Linked DNA regions of Homo sapiens. The protein of the gene in region 3 purifies or fractionates together with the protein of the main gene of each other region. This does not show direct contact. Each region holds a gene or a part of one and is shown on either strand. Other genes may lie near its edges.

The links.
Region 1: the proteins of ISM2 (region 3) and LRCH2 purify together in Homo sapiens (affinity purification with mass spectrometry; one large-scale study listed by BioGRID and IntAct). This does not show direct contact.
Region 2: the proteins of ISM2 (region 3) and PHLDB3 purify together in Homo sapiens (affinity purification with mass spectrometry; one large-scale study listed by BioGRID and IntAct). This does not show direct contact.
Region 4: the proteins of ISM2 (region 3) and GALNT2 purify together in Homo sapiens (affinity purification with mass spectrometry; one large-scale study listed by BioGRID and IntAct). This does not show direct contact.
Region 5: the proteins of ISM2 (region 3) and DPY19L3 purify together in Homo sapiens (affinity purification with mass spectrometry; one large-scale study listed by BioGRID and IntAct). This does not show direct contact.

Annotation. Positions count from the first base shown.
Region 1 is NC_000023.11:115,223,045-115,228,990, forward strand, and holds part of LRCH2 (leucine-rich repeat and calponin homology domain-containing protein 2), read right to left. Parts: intron 1-5,946. UniProt on the Homo sapiens protein: May play a role in the organization of the cytoskeleton.
Region 2 is NC_000019.10:43,479,460-43,485,405, forward strand, and holds part of PHLDB3 (pleckstrin homology-like domain family B member 3), read right to left. Parts: intron 135-5,946; coding exon 1-134.
Region 3 is NC_000014.9:77,494,407-77,500,926, forward strand, and holds the start of ISM2 (isthmin-2 isoform 1 precursor), read right to left. Parts: upstream 4,411-6,520; 5' UTR 4,388-4,410; coding exon 4,247-4,387; intron 1-4,246.
Region 4 is NC_000001.11:230,072,022-230,077,967, reverse strand, and holds part of GALNT2 (polypeptide N-acetylgalactosaminyltransferase 2 precursor), read right to left. Parts: intron 1-5,946. UniProt on the Homo sapiens protein: Catalyzes the initial reaction in O-linked oligosaccharide biosynthesis, the transfer of an N-acetyl-D-galactosamine residue to a serine or threonine residue on the protein receptor.
Region 5 is NC_000019.10:32,435,189-32,441,134, reverse strand, and holds part of DPY19L3 (protein C-mannosyl-transferase DPY19L3), read right to left. Parts: intron 4,690-5,946; coding exon 4,568-4,689; intron 3,942-4,567; coding exon 3,796-3,941; intron 2,024-3,795; coding exon 1,900-2,023; intron 1,360-1,899; coding exon 1,225-1,359; intron 1-1,224. UniProt on the Homo sapiens protein: C-mannosyltransferase that mediates C-mannosylation of tryptophan residues on target proteins.

The DNA.
Region 1 (5,946 bases), on a different chromosome or scaffold from region 3:
ACTGATTTTAAACAAGGGTCACAAGACAATCAGATGAAGAAAAAAATGACCTTTTCAAAAAATGGTGCTAGGACAACTAGATACCCACATGTAAAAGAATGAAGTTGGACCCTGATCTTACATGACACACAAAAATCAACTTAAATAAGCAGTAAAGCTAAATGTAAAAAAATGAAAGAGCTAAAACTATAAACTCAGAATACATAAGGATAAATCGTTCTGACCCTGGGTTAGGCAATGCTTCCTTAGACATGACACAAAAAGCACAAGCAACATAAGAAAATAGATAAAATAGGTGATATCAGTATGTTTTAATTTTGTGTTTCAGAGTAGATGAACCAACAGAATAGGAAAGAAATATTTGCAAGTGATATATCTGATAAAAAACTTGAATATAGAATTTTTTTTTTAAAAAAACCTCTTACAACTCAGTAATGAAAAGACACCCCAATTAGTAAATGGACAAAGGGTCCTAATAGACATTTTGCTTATGAAAATATACAAATAGTCAATAAGCACATGAAAAGATGTTCAACATCATTAGTCATGAGGAAAAGTCAAATCAAATCCACAATGAAATCCTGACTCACGCTGGGCACGGTGGCTCACGCTTGTAATCCCAACACTCTGGGAAGCTGAGGCAGGTGGATCACCTGAGATCAGGAGTTCAAGACCAGCCTGGCCAACATGGTGAAACCCCGTCTCTACTGGAAAAAAAAAAAAATACAAAAATTAGCCAGGCATGGTGGCACACGCCTGTAATCATAGCTACTCAGGAGGCTGAGGCAGGAGAATCGCTTGAGCCCAGGAGGCGGAGGTTGCAGTGAGCCGAGATTGCATCACTGCACTCCAGCCTGGGCGACAAGAACGAAACTCGGTCTCGAAAAAAAAAAAAGAAGAAGAAGAAGGAAAGAAATACTGCCTCATACCCACTAGGATGGCTATAAACAAAAAGATAAAAACAACTGCTGCTGAGAATGCAAAAAAAATTGGAATTCTCATAATACTGGTACATGCTACAACATAAATGAACTTTGAAAACATAGTAAGTTAAAGAAGCCAATCATAAAAGGTCACATCCTGAATTAAGTCATTTACATAAAATGTACAGATGGGGTAAATCTATAGAGACAGAAAATAGATGAATGGTTGCCTAGGGTTTGATTGGTTGGGGAGGAGGCAGGGAGAATGGAAAGGGATTTATTTGTACAGGATTTCTTTCAGGGGGAGATGAAAATATTCCAAAACTAAATTATAGTGATGGGTGCACAGCTAACAACCAATCAACAATATACTTTAAATTGGTCCACTTTTGGTCTGTGAACTCTCAATAAAATGTTAAAAAGAAAAGAAGTAGGCCAGGTGCAGTGGCTCACCCCTGTAATCCCAGCACTTTGGGAGGCCAAGGCAGGTGGGTCACCTGAGTCCAGAAGTTCAAGACCAGCCTGGGCAACATGATGAAACCCTGTCTCTACAAAAAAATACAAAAATTAGCTGTGCATGGTAGCACACCCCTGTGGTCCCAGCTACTCGGGAGGCTGAGGTAGGAGGATCACTTGAGCCTGGGAGGTTGAGGCTGCAGTGAGCCGTGATTGTGCCACTGTACTCCAGCCTTGGCAATACAGCGAGACTCTGTCAAAAAAAAAAAAAAAGAAAAAAGAAAGGGAGAAAAGAAGTAGATACAGAAGCCAAGGCCCTTGGTCCCTAAAGTTTCACAATTTCACTGAAAAATCACTGAAATGAGGCAGATTGATTAAAAGCAGAAAAGGCATACAAGTTTACTTAAAGTATATATATGGGAGCCTTCAGAATTAAGACCCAAAGGAGGAATTGCCTATTTTATGCTTAGGTTCAACAAAGTATGGACAGCCCAGCTGTGCAGAAATATGATTGGCCAAAAAGAATATATTCTAAAGCTGACAGACTGAGTGGGGAAACCTAGCAAGGCCTGTCTGCCTATTAAATAGATTCTTCTAGGCCTCTCTGAGCCTGTATTCCTTCCTTCTGACTGTGGGGCAGGGCCCTCTCTGGAATGGGGGTCTTAAGACCTACAGTCAAACAAGGTAGGTTAGATCATTTCTTTGTGTCCAGTTTTTACACAGAAAGGCAGAGGGGAAATTAGAGTAATATTTTTAGGTCTTATGGCTGGCTTTCAGGAAAAGGGGTTCTGGCTTCTGTGATCCTCCTTGGGGAAGAGGGATTCTAGTTTCTACGGCTAGCCTTGGAGGAGAATGGGACAGAGAGACAGGAGGGCAGGACAAAGTCAGTGCAAAACTTCTGCTTCTGAGGCTGCTGCTGAGGCCTTCATTTGGGGGTATTGTTTTCTGAGCCCCAACATAGGTAAGGATGGATCTGAAAAAAGATAATCCATATGTAAAAACAGGAACATGGAACTCCACCTCGTGCTATACATAAAAATCGATTCCATATGAATTAAGAACTTTAATACCAAAAACAAAACTAAAACTCTTAGTAAAAAATGTAGATGAATATATTTTACATATTCTTAAACAGGACACAGAAATCATTGACTACAAAATTCAAGATTGATACATTTGGCTGTATTAAAATTTACAAATTTGTCCATCAAAACACCCCTCAAAGAGCAAAAAGGCAAGTTATAAACAAGATATTCAAAATATACAAAACAAATGATTAGTATAAGGAGTATTTTTTTAAACCCATAGAATTCTATTTTTTAAAAAAGGACAACCAACCAACAGAAAATGGGCAAAATAAATGAAAAGCTATTTCACAGTACAGGAAAGACATATGACCAACAGACATCTGAAGAAAGGTTAACATCATTCGTGATCAGGGGAATGTAAATCAAGAAAGACTTCATCGAAATACCTTTTTAAACACACTTGGTCAAAATTTTTAAATTTGACAGTACTGTTTTGGAGGGCACATAGATTCATAGGATCTCCTATACATGTCAATGGAAACAGAAATGATAAATCGGTTTGAACACTGACATACTATACAACCCAGCAATTCCATTTTCAAGTATATACACAAGAGAAATCCTTGCACAAGTACAAGAGACATGTATAATAATGATAGTAGTGCTATTCCCAAGAGAAAAAGGAGGAGGGGGGAATGAAAATGGCTATCAGTGAGAAAGTGAATAAAGATGGTATATTCACATGATGCAAGATAACACAGCCATCCAAAAGAATGAACCACAGTTTTACATAACAATTTGGATGAATCTTAGCAATTTAATTTTAACTAATAAAATATAAAAATTACCACAGTTAAATAAAACATAGTGTATGTATTACTTTTTTTAATGTTCAAAACAAGGAATAAGGAAATAAGATTTTGAAACGTACGGCTTGAAAACTGGCTACTGGCTTGAAGGTGTTTTAGTAACATTGTTTTAGTAACACATGACAATCAGATTTGCATATTAGAAAGAATGGTTTAGCTACAGTGTGGAGGACTAACTAATTTAAGTTGAAGAAAACTTGAGACAGAGAGATCATTTAGAAAACTACTGACAGGTCCAGTTAAAGGTAAGGAATAGAGGAGAATCTGAACAATGACATTGAGAATAGAAAGGAATGAAACTGATCTGAAAGCTATTCAAAGAGTTATGACCAACAGGCCTTAGTCCCTCACTAGATATAGAGGCTGAGGGAAAGGGAAGAGTGGAGAATAACTCCCAAGTTTTAGATCTGGGTGACAAGGGGGCCTAGGGTGAATAACGAGAGTTCATTATTTGACATATTGAGTTTGAGGAGACTCTGAGATATCAGCATTCATGTAGTTTCCTCCATCTAAGAATAACTATAAAATCTGATGCCTCCTCTCTAAAGGCCAATCCTCCAACTTCTTTATAAAGCCCCCCTCTGCTGTTCAAACGACCAAATCAAATGTTATCCCTCCCTCTTTGAACCTATGCTGCACTTTCCATTTATCTTACTCTAACCCAGGGTTTCTCAACCTTGGCACCATGGACATTTTAGACAAGTTAAGTCTTTGTTGTATGGGGCTGTCCTTTTCAATGTAGGATGCTTGGCAGCATCCCTTGCCTCTACCCACTAGATGTCAGTAGCAACCCCCAAATTGTGATAATCAAAAATGTCTTCAGCCAGGTGTGGTGCTGCAGGACTATAGTCCAAGCTACTCAGCAGGCTGAGACAGGAGGATCACTTGAGCCCCCGAGTTAGAGCCTGTGAACAGCCACTATATTCCAGCCCAGGCAACATAGCCAGGGCAACATAGCAAGGCCTTGTCTCTTAAAAAAAAAAAAAAAAGTCTCCAGATACTGTCAAATATCCTCTGGAGGCAACCTCTCCAACCCTACCCTTCCCCACAATGAGAACTACTGATCTAGGATATAATAGGTATATGAGTTCTTATTTTAAACCATTATGAAATCATTAACTCACTGAAAGCAGCAACTTTACAACCTTTACAAAATATCTATATGACAAATCCATTCTTACATACTCATTAAGGTAGTTTAAGGACACAGTCATCTATGTTTAATTTACTATTTCTAATTCACAAAAACCTTTAAATGTAATTATTTCCCATTGACATAGACATCCCCAACCAAGTAGCTCAAAATACTAAGGATTTACGTATTGCAATTATTTTTTTAAGAAGTGAAAAACTCTAGACTATACATACTAGATTCTCTTAGGAACATAATCATTAACAAAAAGCCATTTCTGAGTGAAATCCAAATTCACAAATGTTCTAGAATCAGTTCATCTCCATATGGTTCAAAGAAAAGTTTATGTCACAGTTATCTTATACCTGTCTCTTGTCACCTTGAATCTCTAATATTCTACTGAGACAAGTAATTAATCTAAAAATAAAGTGACAACATTCTCTGTCACAAATTAGAAAAGACTACACAGAATCAAGTGTTCCTGAAAAGGAAAGAACTTACTTTCCTATTTGGAAAAAACTTTTCCTCAAAGAATTTGATATAAAAAATACATTAGAAAATATCTACTGTTGAATTATCCATTACAGTCCATTGACAGGTATTCTGTTAATGGAATGCTATCTATTTACATGAAACAAGAGAAATGTAAAGATTAAACATTACAGTTTGACCTTTAGCAGATTGAGTGCACTAGCTGAAAGTGAGAGTAAACATAAACTTACATTGTTATTAAATTGGCTTATACAGTTTTCTTTAATTACATTAAATGGTTCCCTGGCGTGTAAGGTATTTTTTTTTCTGTAAATGAGAAGCAGACAACCCTTTCTGAAACTTTCCAGATAACTGATTATAAGAGTATTACAATGTTTTAAGAAGCACCCAAATACACTCAAAGTGTAGAGAAAAAAAGAAAACTAAAATATTTCCCTTTCTAGGTCATGATGATCACTAGCCTCTGCAGAATGGGGAGGTGTGTATCATGCAGTTAAGGCATCTCACAGAGTGGGCTGCTAGGCTGGGCTGGGAGAACAAGATGCCTCTTTTGCAAAGTTTCACTGTGTGCCTAGGAACTTAAACAAATGGCACCTCCCAGCAAATCAATTTTGTAAGTCTTCAATTATCTTTATTTGTAGTAAGTGTCCCTAGCATTACTTCTTATGTTCTCAGTGAGGTTCTGGATCTTGTCTACCTTCATGCCAAATAAATGCTTCAGAATTTATATCACAAATAATCTAAATTGAAATATTAAATTTAAACCTTAAGCAAAAGTATTCCACTAACCCCAATTTTAAAACATCCCAATCAACCACTTCTGTTCTTATACCTGTCATGCAACAAATACCTAACCTAACTTTTCAGGAAGCTTTCTCAAACTAAATTAATCCCCTCTAAAATTAAGCCTTATGCCACAGTTCCAGATCTCTTATGTGTACAGTATATTAAAATATATTATTTTGAATACTATTATATATTATAGTGAAATTCTTTTCTAATGGTTATATTACTGTATACATTTGACTATTGTATAAATCCTTTAA
Region 2 (5,946 bases), on a different chromosome or scaffold from region 3:
ACCAGGGGTCCACGGCAGCAGCACCCAGACACCTGCACATGTGGGCAGTTTTCCGGGTTGTGGCCCCATCCCTCCAGATGCTGCCGGAGATCCAAGATTCGCGGGCCTGGAGGGTGGGGTGGGGTGGGTGGGGCCTGGGGAGCAAAGAGACGGGGCAGCTGATGTAAGGGGCGGGGGATTCTACAGCCTGGAGCCCCTCGAGGGGAGCAAGTCATAGCAGCTTGCATGTAAGGCCCGCTACAGCCTTTAGAGGGTAATATTAACTAGGACCATCTGACAAATGCAACGGCTACGTGGATTGACTGTGATGCTCTGCCCAGGACTTTATGGACATCAGCTCCTTGGCACTTCATGGCAACTGTGAGCCCCATTTTACAAATGAGCAAAATGAGGTACAGAGAGATGACATAATGCACCCGAGGTCACACAGAGCTTCTAGGCAGCAGAACTGGGACACGAACCCAGGTATTTCTGACCCTAGAGCTCACCCTGAAACATCAGAGGCCTATCAAAAGAAATAAAGATCGGGCCGGGTGTGGTGGCTTATGCCTGTAATCTCAGAACTTTGGGAGGCTGAGGTAGGAGGATCCCTTAGGCCTAAGAATTCAAGGGCAGCCTGGGCAACATAGTGAGATCCTGTCTCTGAAAAAAAAAAATTTTTTTTGGAAAAAAGAAATGAAGATTGGAGCCTGTGTGGTGGCTTAAGCCTGTAATTCCAGCTACTCAGGAGGCTGCGGTGGGAGGATCCCTTGATCCCAGAAGTTGGAAACCAGCCTGGGCAACACAGAAGACCCCTTCTCTATTTAAAAAAAAAAAAAAAAAAAAAAAAAAAAGGAGAGAGAGAAGAGAAGCTATGTGCAGTGGCTCATGCCTGTAATCTCAGCACTTTGGGAAGCTGAAGTGGGAGGATCACTTGAGGCTATGAGTTGGAGACCAGCCTGGGCAATATAGTGAGACCCCATCTCTACTAAAAATCCAAAAAATTAGCTGGGCCTAGTGCTGCACACCTGTAGTTCCAGCTACTAAGGAGGCTGAGCCCAGGAGGATCACTTGAGCCCAGGAGATCGAAATTGCATTGAGCTATGATTGCACCACTGCACTCCAGCCTGGGTGATTGAGTGAGACCCTGTCTCAAAAATAAAAAAGAAAGAGAGAGCTTGTTTACATTATTATTGTTGTGATGAAATTAATGAATATAATCCTCTGCTAAGTACTTTCTAGGTATAATCTCTGCCCCCTCAAACTCTCCTGAAGGGGTAAGTACATTTATCTCCGTTTCACAGATGTGGAAACCAAGACTCAGAGAGGTTAAGTCACTCGGCACAAGTCACACAGCCAGAGCTGACAGAGCCAGGACTCACCAGGTAGAGTGGTCACCTCAGATGGTCATACAGGTTGGGGAGGAGGATTTAAGGCAATACAAGTGTCCACTATTTATGAGAGCCTGACCATGAGCTGGTCTGATCCAACCTATTCTTCCCAAATAATCCCTGCAAACAGTGGTATGATTCCGGAGGTCAAACTGAGGTTCAGGGTAGTACATCTCAGATTTCTTCATGCAAGCAGATCCGCTGGGGATTTTGTTAAAATGTTAAAATGCAGACTCTGATTCAGTCATTTCAGGGTGGAGTCTGGAGTAGGGGGAGAGGTTCTGCATGTCTGACAAGCTCCCAGGTGGGCCCTGATGCTGCTGTTCCACCAGCCACACTTTGAGTGTCAAGGAGTTAGAAAACTGAAGCAGGATGGGTGCGGTGGCTCACACGTGTAATCCCAGCACTTTGGGAGGCCAAGAGGGGAGGATCACTTAAACCCAGGAGTTTGAGACCAGCCTGGGGCAACATGGCGAAACCCCGTCTCTACAAAAAATACAAAAATTAGGCTGGGCGTGGTGGCTCACGCCTACAATCCCAGCACTTTGGGAAGCCAAGGTGGGGGGATCACCTGAGGTTGGGAGTTTGAGACCAGCCTGACCAACATGGAGAAACCCTGTCTCTGCTGAAAATACAAAATTAGCCAGGCGTGGTGGCGCATGCCTGTAATCCCAGCTACTCAGGAGGCTGAGGCAGGAGAATCGCTTGAACTCGGGAGGTGGAGGTTGCGGTGAATCAAGATGGCACCATTGCACTCCAGCCTTGGCAACAAGAGCGAAACTCCATCTCAAAAAAAAAATACAAAAATACAAACATTAGCCAGGCATGGTGGTGTGTGCCTAGGATCCCGGCTAATTAGGAGGCTGAGGTGGGAGGATCGCTTGAGCCCAGGAGGTGGGGGTTGCAGTGAGCCGAGATCACACCACGGCACTCCAGGCTGGGTGACAAAGGGAGACCATGTCTCAAAAAAAAAAAAAGAAAGAAAAGAAAGAAAACTGAAGCAAGGCCAGAGCAAGAAGGGATGAGAAACAGAGATGAGATCTGCTGGTTGGAGACAGGAGAGTGAGGTGGGGAAATGAGAAGGATTAGGGAGGAGGGAAAGGAAGGGAGGGAAAGGCCAGGTTTAAAGAGTACCCGCTGGGCCTGCAATCTCCCCAAATCCACACAGAAAGACCAAGGATCACCACTGTGTGTGGAAGCTCCCGCTCTGTGTCAGGCACTATGCCAAGTGGTCACTGTGATTACCTCGTTTCTTCTCCAAAAGAACCCATTAATGTTCCTGCTAGACAGATCAAGAAACTGAGGCTTTAAGAAGAGGTGACTCTCCAAGGTCACCAAACTAGGATGTAGGGGAGCTGGGCCCCAATCTAGGAGGAGACCAGGGATGGGCTTGGGACTCCACCACTGCCCGGCTGTGTCACCTCCACAGAACTCCTGCCCCTCTGGGAGCCTCAGTTCCCTATGCTAAAACACCAGGGTTATCACAGCACTCTCCTCTGGGGCTGTTTCAAGGATGAGCTGGCTGCCCTCAGGGTCTCTCACCTAGAGGTTCCTCTTCTAGGTGTGAAGCCCAGGGACACACTTGCTCACGTGCACAAAAGATAGCAGGGGTGTACGGCAGGGGACAAAGCACACAGCAGGGGACTGTTTAATAAATGATGATGCTAGAAGCCAGGCAGAACACCAGAGCAGGAGCAATTCTGTTTGTTTGTTTGTTTGTTTGTTTTGAGACAGAGTCTCGCTCTGTCACCCAGGCTGGAGAGCAGTGGTGTGATCTTGGCTCATTGCAACCTCTGCTTCCCAGTTCAAGCGATTCTCCTGCCTCAGCCTCTCGGGTAGCTGTGACTATAGGCACATGCCACCACGCCCAGATGATTTTTGTATTTTCAGTAGAGACGGGGTTTCTCCATGTTGGTCAGGCTGGTCTCGAACTCCTGACCTCAGGTGATCTGCCCACCTCAGCCTCCCAAAATGCTGGGATTACAGGCGTGAGCCACCACGCCTGGCCTGTGCTTCGTTTTTAATGAGCACAAGCTTATGCCTAACAATGCAGAAGACCCCACTGCCGTTCCTGCCTTATTTTGCTCCCTGGCTCTTATCAGCCTCTGACATGCTATTTATTTTACATATTGATGTTGCTTTGTGTCCATCTTCCCCCTTAAAACATCAGCTTCCCCCAAAGGTGGGGATTGTTATCTTGGTCACTGCTATGACCCAGGGTCTAGCACACAGTAGGCACTCAATAAATATGGGCTGAAATGAATAAGGGAAGGACAAATGGTGGTAAAAACAAAAAGGTTGGGAAGGATGTGCTTATTTATGAGACAAATTCACAAAATATGGCTTGACTGGTGCATGTGGAAAAGTATAAACACAGATTTGAAGGCTTCTCAGCAGTAGAAGTGAGATCAGGAAGAAAGTGACCACTTTCTTAATACTTTATCTATCATTCTTTTTTTTTTTTGAGGCAGGGTCTCACTCTGTCACTGAAGCTGGAGTGCAGTGGGGCGATTATAGCTCACTGCAGCCTCCACCCACTGGGCTCAAGCAATCCTCCCACCTTAGCCTTTTCCCGAGTAGCTGGGACCAAAGGCATGCACCACCACACCTGCTAATTTTTTAAATTTCTGTAGAGATGAGGGTCTGACTATGTTGCCCAGGCTGTTCTCCAGCTCCGGGACTCAAGTGATCCTCCCACCTCGGCCTCTCAAAGTGCTGAGATTATAGGCGTGAGCTATGGTGCCTAGCTTTATCATTCTTTATAACAAAACGCATTGATTCTATGAATGTTATTAGTATAGGCAAAAATGTAATTTATGTAAGGGAGTTGTCAGCTAAATCAAGAATGTGAAAAAGTCAACAGGATAAATTATTTGATTATTTCCACAAATAAATAGCATTTTCTTTAATGGGGAGGCAGAACTGTTAGAGATTAAAAGATTTAAGAGACATTAAACCAAATGCATAGCGTGTGCTTTGCATATAGATTCAAATAAATCAACTGTGAAAAGATATTTTAGGTCAGGCATGATGGTTCAGGCCTATAATCTCAGCACTTTGGCCAGAAGGGAGGCTCGAGGCCAGGAATTCAATACCAGCCTGGCCAACATAGTGTCTCTACTGTTAAAAATGGAAAACAAGGCCAGGCACGGTAGCTCATGCCTGTAATGCCAGCACTTTGGGAGGCCAAAGCGGGTGGATCACCTGAGGTCAGGAGTTCAAAACCAGCCTGGCCAACATGGTGAAACCCCGTCTCTACTATAAATACAAAATTAGCCAGGCATGGTGGTGGGCGCCTGTAATCCTAGCTACTCCAGAGGCTGAGGCGGGAGAATCGCTTGAACCCTGGAGGCGGAGATTGCAGTGAGCCGAGATTGTAATACTGCACTCCAGCTTGGGCAACAAAGTGAGACTCCATCTTGGAAAAAAAAAAAAAAAAGGAAAAGAAAAATAATAAATAAATTTTTAAAAACATATTTTGGAGACAATGAGAGAAATGTGAATATGGACTATATATTACAATATAATGAAATTAATAATCTCATAAGATGTGACAATGGAATTTTTGTTATGTTAAAAAAAAAAAAAAACTTATTGGCCAGGCACAGTGGCTTACACTTTTAATCCCAGCACTTTTTGAGGCCAAGGCACACAGATCACCTGAGGTCAGGAGTTCAAGACCAGCCCGGACAGCATGGCAAAACCCCATCGCTACTAAAAACAAACAAAAAAAATAAATGGGTGTGGTGGTGGGCACCTGTACTCCCAGCTACTCGGGAGGCTGAGGTAGAAGAATCGCTTGAACCAGGGAGGCAGAGGTTCCAGTGAGCTGAGATCACATCACTGCACTCTAGCCTGGGCGACAAGAGTAAAACTCTGTCCCCCAAAAAACAAGCCTATCTATTGGAGATACACAGTGATGTTTGAGTGAAAGGATACAATATTTTGCTTTAAAATATTTCAGTGCAGAGTGGGATGTAGGTATGGGATTAGTAAAATAAAATTGGTGGCTGGGCACCAATGCCCTAGAATTATTCTTATAATTCTAGCAGCTTGGAGGCTGACATGGGAGGATTGTTTGAGGCCAGGAGTTTGAGATCAGCCTGGACAACATAGCAAGACTCTATCTCTACAAAAATAAAATACATTAAAAATATAGGAGTGCAGAAGACTTATGAGAAAAAAAGAAAAATATTAAAAATAAAAATAAAATATATATACCTAGTACATACACAAATTAAAATGTTAAATAAAATAAATAAAAAGTTGGCAAGTACAAGATTCAATATTGAAAATGATTAAAGCTGCGCAGTGGGCACCTGGGGGTCTATTAATCTACTCCTTCTCTCATGCATATGCTTGAATATTTCTATCGTAAAAAGGTTTTTTGTTTTTTTTTTTGAGACAGAATCTTGGTCTGTCACCAAGACTGGAGTGCAGTGGTGTGATCTTGGCTCACTGCAACCTGCACCTCCCAGGTTCAAGCAATTCTCTGCCTCAGCCTCCTGAGTAGCTGGGATTACAGGTGCCCGCCACCATGCCCGGCTAATTTTTTGTATTTTTAGTAGAGACGGGG
Region 3 (6,520 bases):
TAATTTTTGAGATGGAGACTCACTCTGTCTCCCAGGCTGGAGTGCAGTGGCACAATCTCGGCTCACTATGACCTCTGCCTCCTAGGTTCAAGCAATTCTTCTGCCTCAGCCTCCCAATAAGCTGGGACCACAGGTGCCCACAACCATGCCCGGCTAATTTTTGTATTTTTAGTAGAGATGGGGTTTCACCAGGTTGGCCAGGCTGGTCTTGAACTCCTGACCTCAAGTGATCCACCCTCCTCAGCCTCCCAAAGTGCTGAGATTACAGGTGTGAGCCACTGCACCCAGCCTGGTCAGTTATTTGTGACACGCCACCCAAGTCCCTAGAATAGCAATCTGCATTCTCTCAACATGACTCCTTAAACTAACACCTTTGCCATAGACAGCTTTAACACAAATCATGAAGACTCATGGAACGATGTCAGAGCTGGACAGAACCATAAAGATGACTTAGGCTCTCTCAGCTCTCTTTTTTCATTTTATTTATTTATTTTTGAGACAGGGTCTCGCTTTGTCACCCAGGTTGGAGTGCAGTGGCGCGATCTCAGCTCACTGCAACTCTTGCCTCCTGGGCTCAGGAGATCCTCCCACCTCAGCCTCCAGAGTAGCTGAGACTACGGGGGGCGCACCATCACGCTCAGCTAATTTTTGTATTTTTTGGGGGGTAGAGATGGGTTTTCGCCATGTTGCTCAGGCTGGTCTTGAACTCCTGGGCTCAAGCAATTCTCCCACCTTGGCCTCCCAAAGTGCTGGGATTACAGGTGTGAGCCACCACGCAGGCCCCTCTTTTTAAATGTGAGGAAATCATCCGAGGTGAGTCACACATGCATTAATGACCCACTGGGACCAGAACTCCAAGGCCTAGACTCTAAGCTCTGCTTTTTCATTGTGGCACTAATTTGTTTTCACATGTTTTTGATGACTCTGCCAGGCTTTGTACGGGAGCTGAGGATATGATTTTGGCTCTGAAATAACTCATCCTCTAGGGTGTTCTTGTTAGGGGAAGATTTGGCAAACATGCTAAAAATAATTACAATACAAAGCAGTAAGTACTAAAATAGAAAGTATTCATGCCAAGTGAGCAGAAACAATGCCAATTTAGTTAATTTTATTATCACTGTCATCTCCATGTAGGAGGAGGGACTGGCGAGAGGCCTCATCTGTCTACAACAGTCATTCTCCACTACGGGCAGTGGGGATAGGGTGTCCCACAGGAAGCATGTGGAGTGTCTGGGCCTCGTGAGGCGGCAAGTGCTACAGGCGCCTAGTGGGTAGAGGCCAGGAATGCTGCTAAACGTTCTATGAAGCATAAGACAACAGCCCCTACCACAAAGAATTATATGCCCCAAAATGACGAGGGTGCCGAGGCTGAGAAGAGCCAGTCTAAAGGATGCATTCTCAATAGGGGCAATAACTAGATCTTGTGAGGGACCAAAAAGTCTTAAGATATTACAATGGTTTGTGACATTCCAAAGGGCTATAATACATAGACAGTGTATCTATGGTATTAAAATGTCATGGGGAGGTCGGGCGTGGTGGCTGACACCTGTAAGCCCAGTACTTTGGGAGGCCAAGGCAGATGGATCACTTGAGGTCAGGAGTTTGAGACCAGCCTGGTCAACATGACGAAACCCCATCTCTACTAAAAAAATACAAAAATTAGCTGGGCGTGGTGGCAGGCATCTGTAATCCCAGCTACTCTTGAGGCTGAGGCAGGAGAATCGCTTGAACTTGGAAGGTGGAGGATGCAGTGAGCCGAGATTGAGCAAGACTCCATGCCAAAAAAAAAAAAAAAAATTCAGCCGGGCATGGTGGCTCACGCCTGTAATCCCAGCACTTTGGGAGGCTGAGGTGGGCAGGTCACCTGAGGTCGGGAGTTCAAGACCAGCCTGACCAACATGCAGAAACCCCATCTCTACTAAAAATACAAAATTAGCTGGGTGTGGTGGCGCATGCCTGTAATCCTAGCTACTCGGGAGGCAGAGGCAGGAGAATCGCTTGAACCCAGGAGGCGGAGGTTGTGGTGAGCCAAGATCACGCCATTGCACTCCAGTCTGGGCAACAAGAGCAAAACTCCGTCTCCGGGAAAAAAAATAGCCGGGCGTGGCGGCTCACACCTGTAATCCCAGCACTTAGGGAGGCCTAGGCAGGTGGATCATAAGGTCAGGAGTTCGAGACCAGCCAGTTCGAGACCAGCCTGGCCAACATGGTGAAACCCTGTCTTGACTAAAAATACAAAAATTAGCCGGGCGTGGTGGCGTGAGCCTGTGATCCCAGCTACTGGGGAGGCTAAGGCAGGAGAATTGCTTGAACCCGAGAGGCGGAGGTTGCAGTGAGCCAAGATTGTGCCACCGCATTCCAGCCTGGGTGACAGAGTGAGACTCCATCTCAGGAAAAAAAAAAAAAAAAAAAAAAAAAAAAAAAAAAAAATTCATGGGGAGTGGGGACAGGAAAAAAACCTAAAAGACTCCTTAAGGGGGCAGAAAAAAAGGTAGCAAAACTGGTCTACAGACACATCCTCAAGTGCAGCCAGTCTCCCCATTCCTTCCCACGGCCTTTGGAGGGTTTCAGCAGTCTGGACAAGTTCTGGCTCTCACTCTCTCACTCACTCACTCACAATCTCCCACACCCTGCATGCCTATATGGACCCTCAGTGTCGTCATCTCAAAAATGGGAAGAATGGCTGGGTGCAGTGGCTCACACCTGTAATCCCAGCACTTTGGGAGGCCGAGGCAGGTGGATCATGAGGTCAGGAGCTCAAGACCGGCCTGGCCAAGATGGTGAAACCCTGTCTCTACTAAAAATACAAAAATTAGCCAGGCGCGGTGGCAGGCGCCTGTTATCCCAGCTACTTGGGAGGCTGAGGCAGGAGAATAGCTTGAACTCGGGTGGCAGAAGTTGCAGTGAGCCAAGATCGTGCCACTGCACTCCAGCCTGGGCAACACAATGAGGCTCTGTCTCAAAAAAAAAAAAAAAAAAAAAGGAAGAAGAAGAATGGCTGGGCACCATGGCTCATGCCTGTAATACTGGCACTATGGGAGGCTGAGGCAGGAGGATTGCTTGAGGTCAGAAGTTCAAGACCAGCCTGGGACACACAGTGAGACCCCCCCATCTCTACAAAATAAAAAATAAAAAAAATTAGCCAGGTGTGGTGGTGCATGCCTGCGCTCCCAGGTACCCAGGAGGCTGAGGCTGGAGGATCGATTGAGTCCGGGAGGTTGAGGCTACAGTGAGCTATCATCACACCACCGCACTCCAGCCTGGGTGACAGAGAGAGATCCTGTCCCAAAAATAAAATAAAAGAGAGGGAGAAAGAAAAAGTAGGAAGGAAGGAGGGAGGGAGGGAGGGAGGGAGGGAGGGAGGGAAGGAAGGAAGGAAGGAAGGAAGGAAGGAAGGAAGGAAGGAAGGAAGGAAGGAAGGAAGGAAAAACGGCAAGATGGGAAGAGCTATTCGGGCCTCCTACAGCTTAGTACATGGAAGGACCCAGGACCCAAGACCTAAGACCACCTGCCACATAGGACTGCTCCTGCATACCCTAATACAAGTCTGGCTGTCTTTGTCCCCATGGGAATGAACGTCCGCTGCATTCCAGGGGGCAATAAGCTGGACTGTAGACCCCTCAGTGACTGGAAGACACAGGGTTTGACAGACCATGGCTTCTCTCCATGGCCAACACCACTCTTCCATCTCATTCCTGTTTTATACCCCAATGCCCACCCACAGGCCACGAGGACAGAGCCAGTCTCAGGCTGGCCACCCCTGCCGGCGGCTGGAGAGCCCCACTGTGCCTCCGCTTGTCTCATGGAAGGGGCTCACCTGACCGTTTGAACCTCAGCGGCCCTGGCCCGCCACTCCGCAAAGCGCCAGATTCCTCGCACCGGCGGGACTCCTCTCCGAGCTAGCGCGCACCTGGAAAGGGGGCTGCAGGCGAGGTCCGCTCAGGGCGAGGAAGCCCGGCCACCGTGGAGTGTCGGCCACCTCACTCCGCACAGAAGTCAAACTTGTCACCCGGCTGGTCCGCGGCAGCCCGGCTCGCGGTCACGCGCGAGGAGTGGAAGCCCCGAAGTCCGGCGCACCTGGGCAACGCCCGGTGTCCGGGAGCTTCCGGCCGGCCCCGGCCCCTCTCTCCATCGGGGGGTCGCTGCCTGTGTGTGTCCCGGTCCCGCTCCCCGCACGGCTGGAGCCGGCGGGCTGGGGAGGTGGGACCGACAGCGCGCTCCGCAGCCCGGTGCCGCCGCCACTCACCTCTGCGAGCCTCGTGAGGCTCCCAGGCCGTGGTCCGCGGAGCCGCGGCTTCTTCACGGGGAGCCCTAGCGCCGCCTCCAGCAGCGCCGCCAGCAGCAGCACGCAGAGGAGGAGCCCGGCTCGGTCGCGGAGCGCACGCATCGTCTCGGTTCCGAGGCTGCTCTGCCTGCACCTCTGCACGCGGCCGCGAACCCAGTCGCGCCCCGCCTCGCCTCCTCCGGGGGCGGGACCCGGCGATCCTGAGGGGCGCGCGGGGCACGGGGCCGCGCGGGGCGGGGGCGCGCAGCTCGCACAGCCTCTCTGGCCCCGGCTCCTCGCGTGGGCGCCCGCACAGCTCTAGGGTCCGCGCACCTGGACGTCCCCCACCCTCCTCCGAGGGGCCCCTCGGCGCTCCCCGACCCGTCTTGACCCTGTGGGCGGCTCTCTTTGATCTGGCCGCCTCCCCGCCCTCAGTCCCCGCCGCTGTCGCCGTCGCAGCCCCCAGCGAATTCCTGTTCGCGGGAAGCTGCGGCCCGGCGCGCTCCGGCCCTGCGCTGCGACTCCTGCGGGGCCCTGAGGGTCCGACGCCACCTCTGCCCTCCCCGACCGCGCTCCAACTGCGACCTGGACCGGCGGTGCCGCGCGGGCGAGGGAGGCGCAGCCCGACGGGAGAGTGGCGCGAGTCTTCGGATGCCGGGCAGATGTTTGGTTATGCCTCGAGGAAGGTTTGCTGGGGAGGAAGCCTAGAAGTAACTCCCCCAGGGCTCTTCCCAGTCTACTGCCGGAGGTGGAGACCAGAGCAGAGGCACAAGCCAGCACCTGCCATTCTGCACCCAGTGTCCTCGGAATGTTCTCAGAGCACTTTTAAAAACCGGAGAGTCGGCCGGTGGCTCACGCCTGTAATCCCAGCAGTTTGGGAGGCCGAGGCAGGAAGATCACTTGAGGTCAGGAGTTGAGACCAGCCTGGCCAACAAGGTGAAACCCCGTCTCTACTAAAAATACAAAAATTAGCCGGGCGTGGCAGCGCGCACCCGTAGTCCCAGCGGGTGGGAGCCCCGAGGTCCGGCGCACCTGGCCCACACACAGGTGGGAGAATCGCTTGCACCTGGGAGGCAGAGGCTGCAGTGAGCCGAGATTGCACTATTGCACTCCAACCTAGGCGACAGAGTGCGACCCTGTCTCAGAAAACAAAACAGGAGAAAGTTGAGACTCAGATGTGAGGATAAAGTCCCAGAAGGACAGCCGGGAGTCTGGTCGTCGCCTAGTTGTATCCTGGGTGAAACAGTGAAACTGCCCACTTCATCCAGTGGGACCCTTGGTGCAGGGATCCTCACGTAGGCCACGAGGGTCACCAAGATGGCCTGCCTCTGAGCAACCGACACAAAACCTTAGCTTGTGGCAAAGATCAGGAACTCTTGAGAGGCAGTGCCAATCTGGATGGGGCAGCTTGGGAATGTGAACGCAGTGACACCAGGTAGGGGGAGGGGTTGGGACAGGTCGGTGAGGAGCAGTCACAAGGCACTGGGGACATGCCCACCCAGGGGTCATAGCAGGGCGCACAAAGGATGACTCAAGTTTCAGGGCAGGGTTGGTGGATCCCCAGGGGTGGTAGAGAGGATGAAGAGCAAGCCCAGCTACTGGTGTAAACTGCTGGGTCTGGGTCAAGTTAGAGTAAGACTGTGGGGGGACTGTGTGCTTTTCTGGAACTACTCCTATTCCCAGGGGCACAGCTGCAGGGTTTTGAATGGTGCATCACAGGGATGACAACCTGGGTCTGGATTCGGCCATGGGGACTGGAATCTTTCACCATTTACCAAGTAGGTGATATTATTGGACAAATTATTTGACGTCTTCGTGCTCTTGTCATCTGTAAAAGTGTGGGGGCCCGGGAGCAGGAGAGGTTACCCCTCTCACCTGGGCACCAAGTGTGAGAAGTGTGAGTAAATGAGAAGTAAATGTGAAGTAAATGTGAGTAAATGAGAAGTAAATGTGAGTAAATGAGAAGCCAGGTTTCCATGTTGAGAATTTGTATTAGAATGAACTATATGAAGTTGCCATGTTTTGTTCAAAAGGTCGAATATTGGCAATTTCATATGGTGCAACCTAATAGGGTGCCTGGTACATGGTAAACACTCAAATGTTAGCCTAAAGAAACCCTGTTTATGAGCACCTGCTAGACCATATTGCATTTACTAGACTAAAGGCAAGGCCACCTTGTTCTTTTTCAGGAATTTTTTTTTTTTTTGGTATAAATATTTTTACATCCTGCCTATTATTTTGTCTTTTTACCACACT
Region 4 (5,946 bases), on a different chromosome or scaffold from region 3:
TACGTCAATGGCTTAGAAGAAAATCCAAGAAACGACAATGAAGCAAGCACTCTTAATCCCTAAAAACCAAATCATGGTGGGATAGGAATGGATGGTGAATTGAGGAGTTAGGCAAAATTCCCAGAAGAGTCAAAGGCTGGCTACCTCGACTTCATTGCCAAGCTGTCTTCAAAGTCCAGAACCAATGGCTCTTAGTATTTTTATGGATTTTTTTCCTTAGGAAATGCTACATCACCAGCGCTTTTGGTGGCACAGTGGATGACTCTGTTTGAAGAAAATAGGCACTAACATCTGAGTCAAAAAGTGACTCAGAGTGCTTGGACTCTGAAAAACTTTTAGAACACTTTGCTCAATGTATTTCACTTGTATTTTCCTTTGTATCTATCTATGCCCGAGAGTGATATATGGAAAAATTGATGTCTCGGTCTGAAAGAGCTCTTTCAATAAGTAGAAAATAAGAATGCCAACTGATAAGAACCCGTTGTGTCACAGGTCAATGGACAGTGTTTTTTCTTTCCTAGTGGTCCACAAAATAATGGCATGTTTGACAAATAATGGCCTCTCGGAATTGATGAAAAAGTTGTATTCCAGACACAGGGGAAATTAGTGATGATCAAAAGTGAGACAGGAAGACAACTAAGTGAGCTCCCTGGCACAGGGGATGGGGCAGGACAAGGGCAGGAGGGGAAGGAGAGTGCGGCAGGGCAGGCCTTTTGAAGGTCACAGAGCAAAAGCTCAACATCTAGGTCAAGGGGAAAGCCCCAGAGGCAGCAAGGAGGAAACAATGAGACTGGGAGGCATCCCACACTGGGCCAACCCTCTCATCATCCAGGACAGCCATACAAATGCCCCTACCCAACAGTCATCTACACTTACCCAAATACTGATAACAGAGTACTTAATTCATGGGCATCTCCAAAACACAGGCCTTTAATTTGCACCGGCTCCTCAAGCTCTCACAGGGCAATTTAGCTAAGAAAGACCCTTCATTTGAAGTGCGTCATTTTTCTAGGGCAGCAGCCTGTCAGAAAGAAAAGAGTTCACTCCCTGGACTGGTCTCTGACGCAGAGAGGAAGAAACCTTGATGGCCACTCTTGAATGTGAAGGCCTCTCAAATTACCTGTTCTTTTTCCCGCCATGTAAATGCTCCAGTTGTTTTATCCAGAAGTACACTGGACGCACGGTGCCTAACCATCCCAATGGTTTTATGGGATTGGTACCTACCAATCCGATAAAATATCTAATGACCCTTCATAAATGAGAATGGCCTCTATGAAAAGCACCTGCATGCCCTCACCTTGAGAACCAGGACCAGCCACAACTTCCCACAGTTCCGCCTCCCTGAGATTGGCCATGAAGTCACATCTCCATTTTACTGTCCCCAAGTACAATACTATCTATCACAGAAGCTCAGTGTTACCCACATTGCCAAGAATAACCCCCCTCTCCAAAGCCTGGGTATCAGGCAGGCATCTGATCTCTGGTTTCCTGCAAATATGAATCAACAAACCCCACTCCCACCCGCAGCAACTCCCAAAGATCACATCACAGCGGAAATCCTGTGCTGGAAAAGGTGCACAGGGACCCAGGGGGATTTCTCGTTAAACAGCAATATGTGCAGAAAGCACTTTAAGAATGTGTACTGTTCTTCAATGGTGCACCTAACAATGAATGACTTACCCGATGCTTGGTGCTTCACAGAAGTCAGCTCAGGAATCAAGAAATGAGATTGTTCCACAAGCATATCCCACGAAGCTGATCAGCAAATTAAACTGCTGGAGCAGTCTAAATTAAAACTGCCTCGAGCAGCTGCAGGTCTGTAGTAAGGGAAGCGATTATGAGAGTACACACAACCTTTTAACCAGGATGCATTCATGCCTCATCGAGGAGACCAGAACAAGAACAGGTGACCAAGATGTCTACAGCATGGAGGGAAACTCCACCACTAGCCAACCAAAGGCAACATCCTTCGGGAAAGAAAACTGGCTCATTTGTTTAGCAAAAGAAACCAAGGAGTAGAGAGATCACCGAAAAAGAGGCTGGACGAAGATGAAACCAGGGGCTACCTCTGAAGCAGAGGGAACCACAATGGCTCCCTCTTAGTCTCAGCTCCAATCCTGCCTTCCCCATGAGCCTACGTGATCACCACTTTAATACTGCAACTATCCTTCCGCCCTCATCCCTAATCCCCATACACTGCTCTATTTTTTCCACAGCACACAGCACCTTTCTGCACACGACGTAACTGACTTCATGTCTACTGTCTGGCTCCCCGCAGCCCCCCACTAGAATGAAAGCTCCAAGACCACAAGGATTCCGTGTCTGCTACAACAACTGGTGTACTCCCAAACACTCAAGCAGTGCCTGGCACATAGGAGGGTCTCAAGAGATACTCACTGAAAGAATAAATGAAAAGAACCAGAGCCAGTTTTCATCTCTGCTCCTTCCGGAGGGGCAGCTGAGGATTGCGGCCTTCAGGACAGGCAGAGGCCTGGAGGGTAGGAACACAAATTCCATGGAGCAAAAGGTAAAAATGAAGAAAAGAGCAGCCGGGCACGGTGGCTCACGCCTGTAATCCCAGCACTTTGGGAGGCCGAGGTGGGTGGATCACTTGAGGTCAGGAGTTTGAGACCAGCCTGGGTGGTGAAACCCTGTCTCTATTAAAAATACAAAAATCAGCTGGGCATGGTGGTAGGTGCCTGTAATCCTAGCCACTCAGGAGGCTGAGGCACAAGAATCGCTTGAACCCGGGAGGCGGAGGTTGCAGTGAGCCGAGATTGTGCCACTGCACTCCAGCCTGGGCGACAGAGTGAGACTTTGTCTCAAAAAAAAAAAAAAAAAAAAAAGCAAAACAGACCAGCACTACTATCAAAGCATTATCAAGTGTGCATCTGCTCCAAGATGCCTTCCAGGAACTTTCCAAATGAGGCCGCAGTATGAGGGCACTGCCAATGCAAGGAAGGGGCATGGGAGGCCCAGGGAGCAGGAGCAAGCCAGGTTCACTGCTGGCTGGCAGAAACCCTCGGCCAGGAGTTGCAGAAAAACCCCACTGCCTCCAGAGGCCCTGAGGAGATCTCTTCCACCAGACAACCCTGGGTCTGCCACCTGTGAGCTCTGTGACCTTGGGAAAGTCACTTAACCTTTCTGTGCTTCAGTTTCATCAGTACACTAGAAGAAATAAAAGGGCTGAGATGAAATGCAGCCCTTTTATTTCTATGCACAGTGAGTGCCATGAAAGTGTTTATTAAATTTTGAAAATTAAAACGTATTAATATATTAGCCCTCCCCACAGTGGTTCACCCCAGACCACACAGAAAGGCAGTCTCATTACAAGAAGGTCTAACCATAATGGCTCAGACAGAAGGAATGAAATCAAAATTAACGGACTAAGGCAGTGGTTCTCTACCAAGGGCAATTCTGCCCACCTCCCACCCTCGCCAGGACACTTGGCAATGTCTGCACATTTTTGGTTGTTACAACTTGGAAGATCAGGGGTGGGAGAACTACTGGCATCTAGTGGGGAGAGGCTGGGGAAGCTGCTACACATCATACAATGCAGAGGACAGCCTTGCACAACAAAGAATGATCCAGCCCAGTGCAGTCGCTCACACCTGGAATCCCAATGCTTTGGGAGGCCAAGGCAGGAGGACCGCTTGAGCCCAGCCTGGGCAACATAGTGAAACCCTGTCCCTACAAAAAATTTAAAAATTAGCCTGCTGTGGTGACACATGCCTATAGTCTTAGCTACTCGGTAGGGTGAGGTGAAAGGATCACCTGAGCCCAGGAGTTTGAGGCTACAGTTAGCTCTGGTTGTACCACTGAGCTCTAACCTGGGTGGCAGAGTACAACTGTCTTAAAAAAAAAAAAAAGCCAGCCAAAAATGTCAATGGTGCCAGAGTTAAGAAACTGAACCAGAGCAACCACAGTCCCGAAAGTACCCTTGTCCCTGCCCAAATGCATGTCCTGACCTGAACTCTGGAAATTCAGTAACTCTACCCCCAACCCTCCTGGCCATTCCTCTTCCCTAAGAGTTAGGGACAGAAAACTGCCAGCCATGGGCAGGAGGAGGTGGTCAGCAGAGTGGCCTAGGAGAGACTCTCTGTTCCATGGGGAGCTCCTGGAAGGCTGCGGCAGAAGGGACAGTTGACCAGGGCAAGCAGCCAGCAAGGGCAGGCTGAGCCATGAGGGATCGGCCCATTTCCCAGCCCCCAGGCAGCCAGCCCTTAACTGCTTCTTTGTGACAGCCCGCCTCAGTGAGACAAGGGGCTCATATAACTCCCATAGCCTGGGAAAGCTTTTTAAATGTAAGCCTATGAGTGAGACTCTATGTGACAGTTTTTGTTTATCTCCAAATCCGGCCCTGATGAATCACTGTCATCTACATTTCAGCATGCTAAGAAACCTAATCCATATAAAACACCCCATGCTTCTGGGGCCCATACTAGTAGACATGACTAAGTGCAAAAATGCCAGTGTTTCACCCTGTGCTGCAGGAGGCAAGAGCCAGGCAGGAGCACAGTGCCACCTGCTTAGAGCAGGGAACCCTAGAAAGGTGGGGGCCCATCAGGGAAGATGGATTAGTGTCTTGAGCCCCTTTTATTTCCATGGTTTACAATAGAGAAAGGTGGGAGAGGCTTTCTGGACTGGGCAGGTAATCTGAAGACAGCTTTCCTGCCAACTCCATACTGGGTTCATCATGAAGATCAAGCACAGGGCCAAGGTAAAGGAATCTTCACACTGTTAAGAGAACAAGGTCAAGTTCCACTCTAAGGACAGGAGTGATCACTGGTGAGCACACATCAATGAATTCAATGTAATTCTCCATAGAGGAGAGTTCCCCGCCAGGCCCAGCCTATCCCAGACCCATTCAGGGGGGTTTGCATATGGAAGTACCAAGACATCCCTCCTCCTTAAAAACACCTCACCCATAAGGCAGTCTAGAGGCAAGGCCACAAGATTACAATGGTGGAACCAGAACTCTCAACAGTAACAGTGAATCAAGACTTACTCAGAGGGAAAAGGGATTGTTCCCATCATGGAAGTGGGGCTAGGCCTCCTTCTATCCAAGTGGCACATTTGCAGGGGTGACAATCAGCATGTTCACTATGGCACAGGCACAGAAGTGGGTCCAAGAGGCCCCTCAAGTGTCAGGATTCAACCCTTTGATTGCTGAACATGGGAAAGAGATCCCAAGGAAAGACCAGGGCAGCTAGGAACCGGAGGGCACTCAGGGGGTCTCAAGGCAGAGCATATTTAACAACCAGCATGGAAGTGCCCCACTGTTACATGTGAGTGGCATGGCTAAGCCAGTGTGTTTCCATCTGGATATCCACTGACTTGTACGGCTCAGCATCACCCATGCAGAGCTTCCAGAAGAGGCTTCACAAGGACAAAAGCACAAAAACCAACAGGGAGCATAGACTTGGCCAGGTTTGTGTGTTTTCTCATCACGTGAATTCTGCTGGGCACTCCAGGAGACTTCACAGGCTTTTCCCAGGAATACCTAGCTTCCCTTCCTGGGATCTCAGCCAGAGCCTCACAGTCGACTCCTGCTTACACCTGTGTCTCTGTCCCAGGCAGCCTCACCGCACCCCCCGCCACCCCCGCCCCACCACACCTGCTTTCACTAAGCCCACTGCCTCTGGACTTGCTAGAAGTTAGGCAGGACAGTGGCCTTGCCTGCTTTGACACTAAAATCAGTATCTTCCCAAACTGACTTCCCTCTCCCCAAAGCCCTAAGAAACATGAGCAGTAGCAAGAAGAAATTATGTCTTCCCCAACCCAATCTCCCCCACCCCCTCTCCCATCATTTTTCTGACCACCTCTTCCTCTGTTCCAAACAGGAGACCAACCACTCACCCATCATTCATCCAAACAGGAGCTAGGGTGGGGAAACTGACAGCGGGTCTGAAGACTCATAAAACCTTCACCAGCCTCCCAGGTGTC
Region 5 (5,946 bases), on a different chromosome or scaffold from region 3:
GAAAAGGCAAATACATTTTTAGGCTTTTGATACCTACTGTGAAACTACACTAAAGAAAGATTATAGGAGTGTATAGGTTACCAGCAGTGTAGGAGTGGTCACTGGCACACCTGCAGAAACACTAAACATTTCATATACATATATAAACTTAGTCCTATCTACTTGCTCTTGCTGCATTCCACCTTCCTATTCTGCCCCCACCCCTGACATCCCACCCAAATTCTACCCTCACTTGTGATCTAGGTGGTCCAGTTCTAGCTTCTTACTTCTGTAAACACTTCTCTGCCTAAAAATAACTTTTCTTCTTTTAGATATATCAGTATTGCTAATTAGCAGCTATCATTTGTCTGCTTGTTCTTGTTGTCTGTGATCTTTGTTTCCCAAGCTAAAAGGCAAACTGTGGCTATGACAATGAATTACACATATTGGCATTTTCTGTAGTGCCCATTCTATTACAGTGTCTCAGTAGACAGGCAATGTGTATTTCTTGGTAGACTTTTATGTTTCTTAATTCAGACTCAGTCAGTTATGGAAGCTTACTGGATCTCCTTTGATATGGAATAAATGAGCACAAATCCTTGGGCTATGCTGCTGCCTTAGATATGGAGAAAGTATTTTATTATACTTGGGAAATATTTAAGTTACTACTACTTTAGAATACTAACTATAAGCCATTTTAAAACTGTACGCAATACATAAAATCATATTTTTGCACATGAAAAAATGTGATTAAATGACAGCAGCAGACATTAGGAGACAGATACTGGTTTCTTTATTTCACATGTGACTTTCAGCCAGTCAACAGGGATTCACATCCCATATTAGTTAAATGTGACTATGAAAATTTTATAAAGTACTACAAAAAAGCTGTTATATACCTATTGATTTCTTTTTTAAAAGTGGCAGTACACAGTAAGACATTTTAAAAGAGCTATCTTATATTTTAAAATTTAAGTCATCTCTATAAATAACAATTGACCTAGGCATTTATGCCCCAAAATAAAATCCATTCCATTTTTTAACTTAAAATAAGCGAATAAAAGTTAAGATGGTCAAACTAGGCTTCATAAATTACTCAGCTTCAATTGGCCACAGCAAATTTACAGCAGATCTAAGAAACAGCTTCAATTTTATCCATAAGTACTTGCATATTTTCATCTCATTCTATGATATAAAAACACTAAATGGCCAAAATCTCAAGTGAGAAAAGAAAGCAAAGCTCACCTTCACTGCTGGCAGCATGTCCAGGGAGTCCAGTGTGAACAGCACTAATGCTTGCATCAGCATCATAAATTGATTAAATTGCCATGTCAGACTAAAGAGAAAAGTTGATATGAAAATGGCAAGAAGTGTCAGCCTCTGTAAAAAGAAAACCTTTGTATAATTTACATGTCTCTAGTAATAAAAAACCTTGCAGACAAGTTTTCTCAAGAGCAGCCAGTATCTCTATAAACCAAACAGAAAAACCATAAACTGTTGCTCTGAAAACCCTTGCATTTGTTATTTAAGCTCTAACTATCATAAAGTGACACTTTGCATATAAATATTCACATACGGTGTGTGTATTCCACACTATTATGGAGGCGATAATGCACCAAATCACATCTCAAGAGCAAGGGCTTAAAAATTCTGACAGTTTGCAGAAATTGTGTGTGGGTTTGCTGCAACTATTTAAGGGTAGATTATGTAGAGTACATTTTTAACATCAAAAATGAAAACATTTTCTTTGCAAAGTAGAAAAAAGCTCACGAAAAGAAAACTTAATTTAACTCAAGTTTAAAAATTGGTCATGGAATAAGAACTATTCACATGCATTGGGATACTAAGCACATCACATTTTTTGAAGCTTCATATATAAAATTGGGGGATTAAAATATATGAAATTTTATAAACACTTACTTCAGAAAGAGGCTGTAAGTTTGGTCTCAGGAAATATGTAATTGCTGCTATCTGAATTGCAAAGAATGGCAGCGCCCAGTTCTCCCTCAGTGGGATGGTAAACTCAACTCTTGTGGTATCTATTCTGCACAAAAGAAAACACAAATGGCCAAAGTGATAGTTTTTACAATAATTTCCTCGAAGACTTCCTCAACGAAAGATATATTACATTAAGGACAAGTATACTTAAGATTCTGGCCACTGGTTCTCAATAATTGTCCTTATCATCATCATCATCATCATCATCATCATCCCTGTAACATAAAATTGGCATAGAGAACATTTAAGTGCTCTGTCCATGGGTATGCCCTTAGCACCTAGGGTTCAAGCCCAGGTTAGCCTTACTCCTAAACTCACAAATGTATCATGCCAAACCCTTACTTTCATTTCTCCCTCACTTTATTAGTGTCAAGAGGCAATACACATTTTCCCTCTCTCTGTATTTCTTTGGTGTTTTTTATACTTGAGTCTTAAATATGTCATTGACAGTATTTTTTAAAAAAACTTCCTGCCTCTCTAGAATGTGAATCCCAACAGGGCAAGTATGGGTAAAATTTTTCATCTTTGTACACCATCCCCACACATACTAGGCATTCAATAAATGATACACTTATGTAACACATAATATACGTGTGTGTATCTACATCTCAAACAAGGTACCTATATCTACATATATCTCTCTATAAAAGATAGAGATATATATGAAACAATGTATCAAACAATGTATCTATATCTACATATATCTCTATATAAAAGAAATATATATAGATGTCTGTAATATCTGTATCTATATACAAAATGTAACCTTTAAAGCCTCAATTTTATCATTTCTAAAATGGGGATAATAATAATATCTACTCTATAGGGTTCTTCTAAGAACCCATATAACACATATTGTAAAGTGCTTGGCATACAGTAAACCCCCAACAGGACTGTCATAACACGTAATTTGCTTAGACTTACAAAATAAAACCTGTATTAGAACTCATGTTCAAGTTTTAAGACTCCTATTGAATACTGGTATTGCCATTATAGGACAGGCAATAATTTAATGATCTTGAATACATTTTTTTAAAATGTGATTTCATAAGGCTCTACTGCTTATAATAGTAGATATTAAATAAGGCAAAAACGCCCTTGCATTTTATCTTTAAGCTCTACTAACTGAGAGCCATACACAACCCTATTAAGGTTGATAGTGAAGATATAATTAAAACTTTTTAGGCAAGGCACAGTAGCTCATGCCTGTAATCTTGATACTTTGGGAGGCCAAGGTGGGAGGACTGCTTGAAGCCAGGAGTTCAAGACCAGCCTGGGCAACATAGGGAGATCCTGTCTCTACAAAAAACAAAAACAACCCCTAAATAAATAAAAATTTTAAAAGTCTTCATTGGCTTTAAAAAACAGCAAGAAAAAAACCCAAAAAACTTTTTAATGACTGATACGTTAATTACCTTGATCTGATCACTATACATTCTATATGTATTGAAATATCACTATGTAGCCCATGAATATGTATAATTATTATTTGCCAATTTAAAAAAACCCTTTAAGAGATGAGATATGCGGCTGGAGAAATCTTGATCACCCAGCAAACAGATAATAGGTTTGGGATTATTATGAATGATTTTCTTGATATGCAATTCAATGCTCTCTGTTCCTCAGCTGGAATTACATGTAAGTAGCACTTTCTCCCTAACTAAATAAGAAAAATTGAGTAAACCACCAGGCAAACCAAAGAGAAACTGCTCCCAACCAAACAAATGTGGCAGAAGAAATTTCTCTGAGCTGGAAATGAAGTGACTTCATTTTTACTTACATTTTGGAAAAAAAAGAAGCATACTGACTCCAACTCACCTATTTGTGACATACCAGAAAGCTGCCAACAGTCCTGACAGCCATGTACCACTGAGTAGCCAGCTGGTTATGTAGAGAGCTGTGACATAGATCGCCTGGAGCCCAAATAAGGTGTAAATATAAAAATAAACTGGCTCTAAATATTTCTGTAAAAGGGAACAATAAAACATGTTTGTCAGGTGAGCCCTAACCCTCCTCAGTGCCATTTAAAACATGACAGTAGGAATACAATATGCAGGAGCTTGCCTCTAATTCCAAGCAGCAAGCCCACACCCCTTTCATCTATTAGAGAAGCGTTCGGGTAGCCTTTCTTCCCACCACCGAGAAGAGACAGGGGAAGGAAGTCCGTGACAGGTCTGGCTTCACTCTTTACTCTAGAAAGTTTTATACCTAACTTTGTCTGATGATACGTCATTCACATGAGAAGTGGTCATTGTGATTTGCTGACTTTACAAATTTTTTCTCTCAAAGATCCATCAGGAGTGAATGTGTAATCACTCCTGATTACAGAGAGCAAATGAAAATATTTATTAGCTTCTAGACCGCATACATACATAAGCCAGGAAGCATCTGTGTACAAAAACCTTATATCCTATGTAAATAAAAAGCAGTATCTTATAAAGTTCATAATATACATGGAAAAAAAATATAGTATTGCTGATTTTCTACTAAACCAGTTGAAGATCAGAAAGAACGATGTGATAACTTTCAGTTCAAAATGGCAGACTTTGACTTTCATCTGATATTAATAATTCAATATCACAAAACATACCTGTATGGGTAGAACTCTATATAAAATACTGAGAAAAACCTCTTGGTAAATATTCATTCGCTGAAGGAGGTTAATTGTCTTCATAGATTCAGTTTTATTATCATATATTAGGCCATGAAAACCTATAGATATGTGAAAAGTCAGGAAGAAAATAATTACACTCATAATTATTCATTCATTCAAAACTATGCACAGATTGTTTAGTAAGTGCTAGAGACTGTGGTAGGCATTGGGGATATAAGAGTAAGCAAAAAAAACATACTCCTGCCCTCAAAGAGCTTACCACATATTCGATGGACATCATTTAAACATTTACACAAACATAGGTAAATTAAAACTTTTGTAACTGGAATGAAACCACCACCACCACCACCACAAGGTCCTTCTCTAGAAATGTGGGCAAGAGGATTTCACATTTCTCCACCCTGCCCTCCTGCCATGCAACCTGCAGTATCTCCTTTGGGAGAGTATACATGGCCTTCCTTCTCCACTCCCCAGAACGGCTTTGGCCATGTGCTCTAACCAGTGGCATGTAAGTGGATGTAAGCCATAGCTGAGCAGAGGCTTTAGAAGACAAGGCATGTTTCTACCAGCTCTTGCTCTTGCCCTCTGCCATGACACTGGCACATTCCAAATAGGGCTTGAATGCGCAGATGTTGGGGGCAGACCAGAGCTGCAGCTCCCTCACAGCAGACATGTCATGAGAAGGATGAAGGAGAACTTGACCTGCTGTTACAGAGATCCACAGCCACAGAGGTCCTCTGTCACTGTAACCAGGCTAATTAATCCAAGGCATGAATGGATAGTTCACAGAAGAAAACATGCACACAGTCCTTCCACACAGGAGAAGATCCTCAACCTTGCTCCTATTAAAACAGTGCAAATTAAAACTACCCTGAGGGATGCTAGTTCTCACCTACTGCCTTGGCAAAAAAAGTTTTACAATACACTCTGTGAGATTATAAAAAAGTAGACTCCTATATACTACAGTTGGGAATACAAAATGGTGTCATCTCTATGGAGAGGAATTTTGCAGTATCCAGCAAAATCACATATGAATTTACCCTTTGACCTAGAAAGCCCATGTCTAGGAATCAATCCCACACAAAGGCTGGCAAAAATACAAAATGACATTGGCACAAGGTCACTCATGCAGCACCATTTGTACCAGCAAAAGATTGATCCAAAACAACCCAGATGTTCCTCAATAGGAGGTGCTGTGGACTGAAATGTGTCCCCCACAAATTTGTATGCTGAAGCCCGAAGCCCTAATATGACTGTTCTTGGAGACAGGGCCTACAGGAGGTAATAAAGGGTAAGTGAGGTCACATGGGTGGGGTCTTAATCTGATAGGACTGGTGTTCTTATAAGAGGAACAG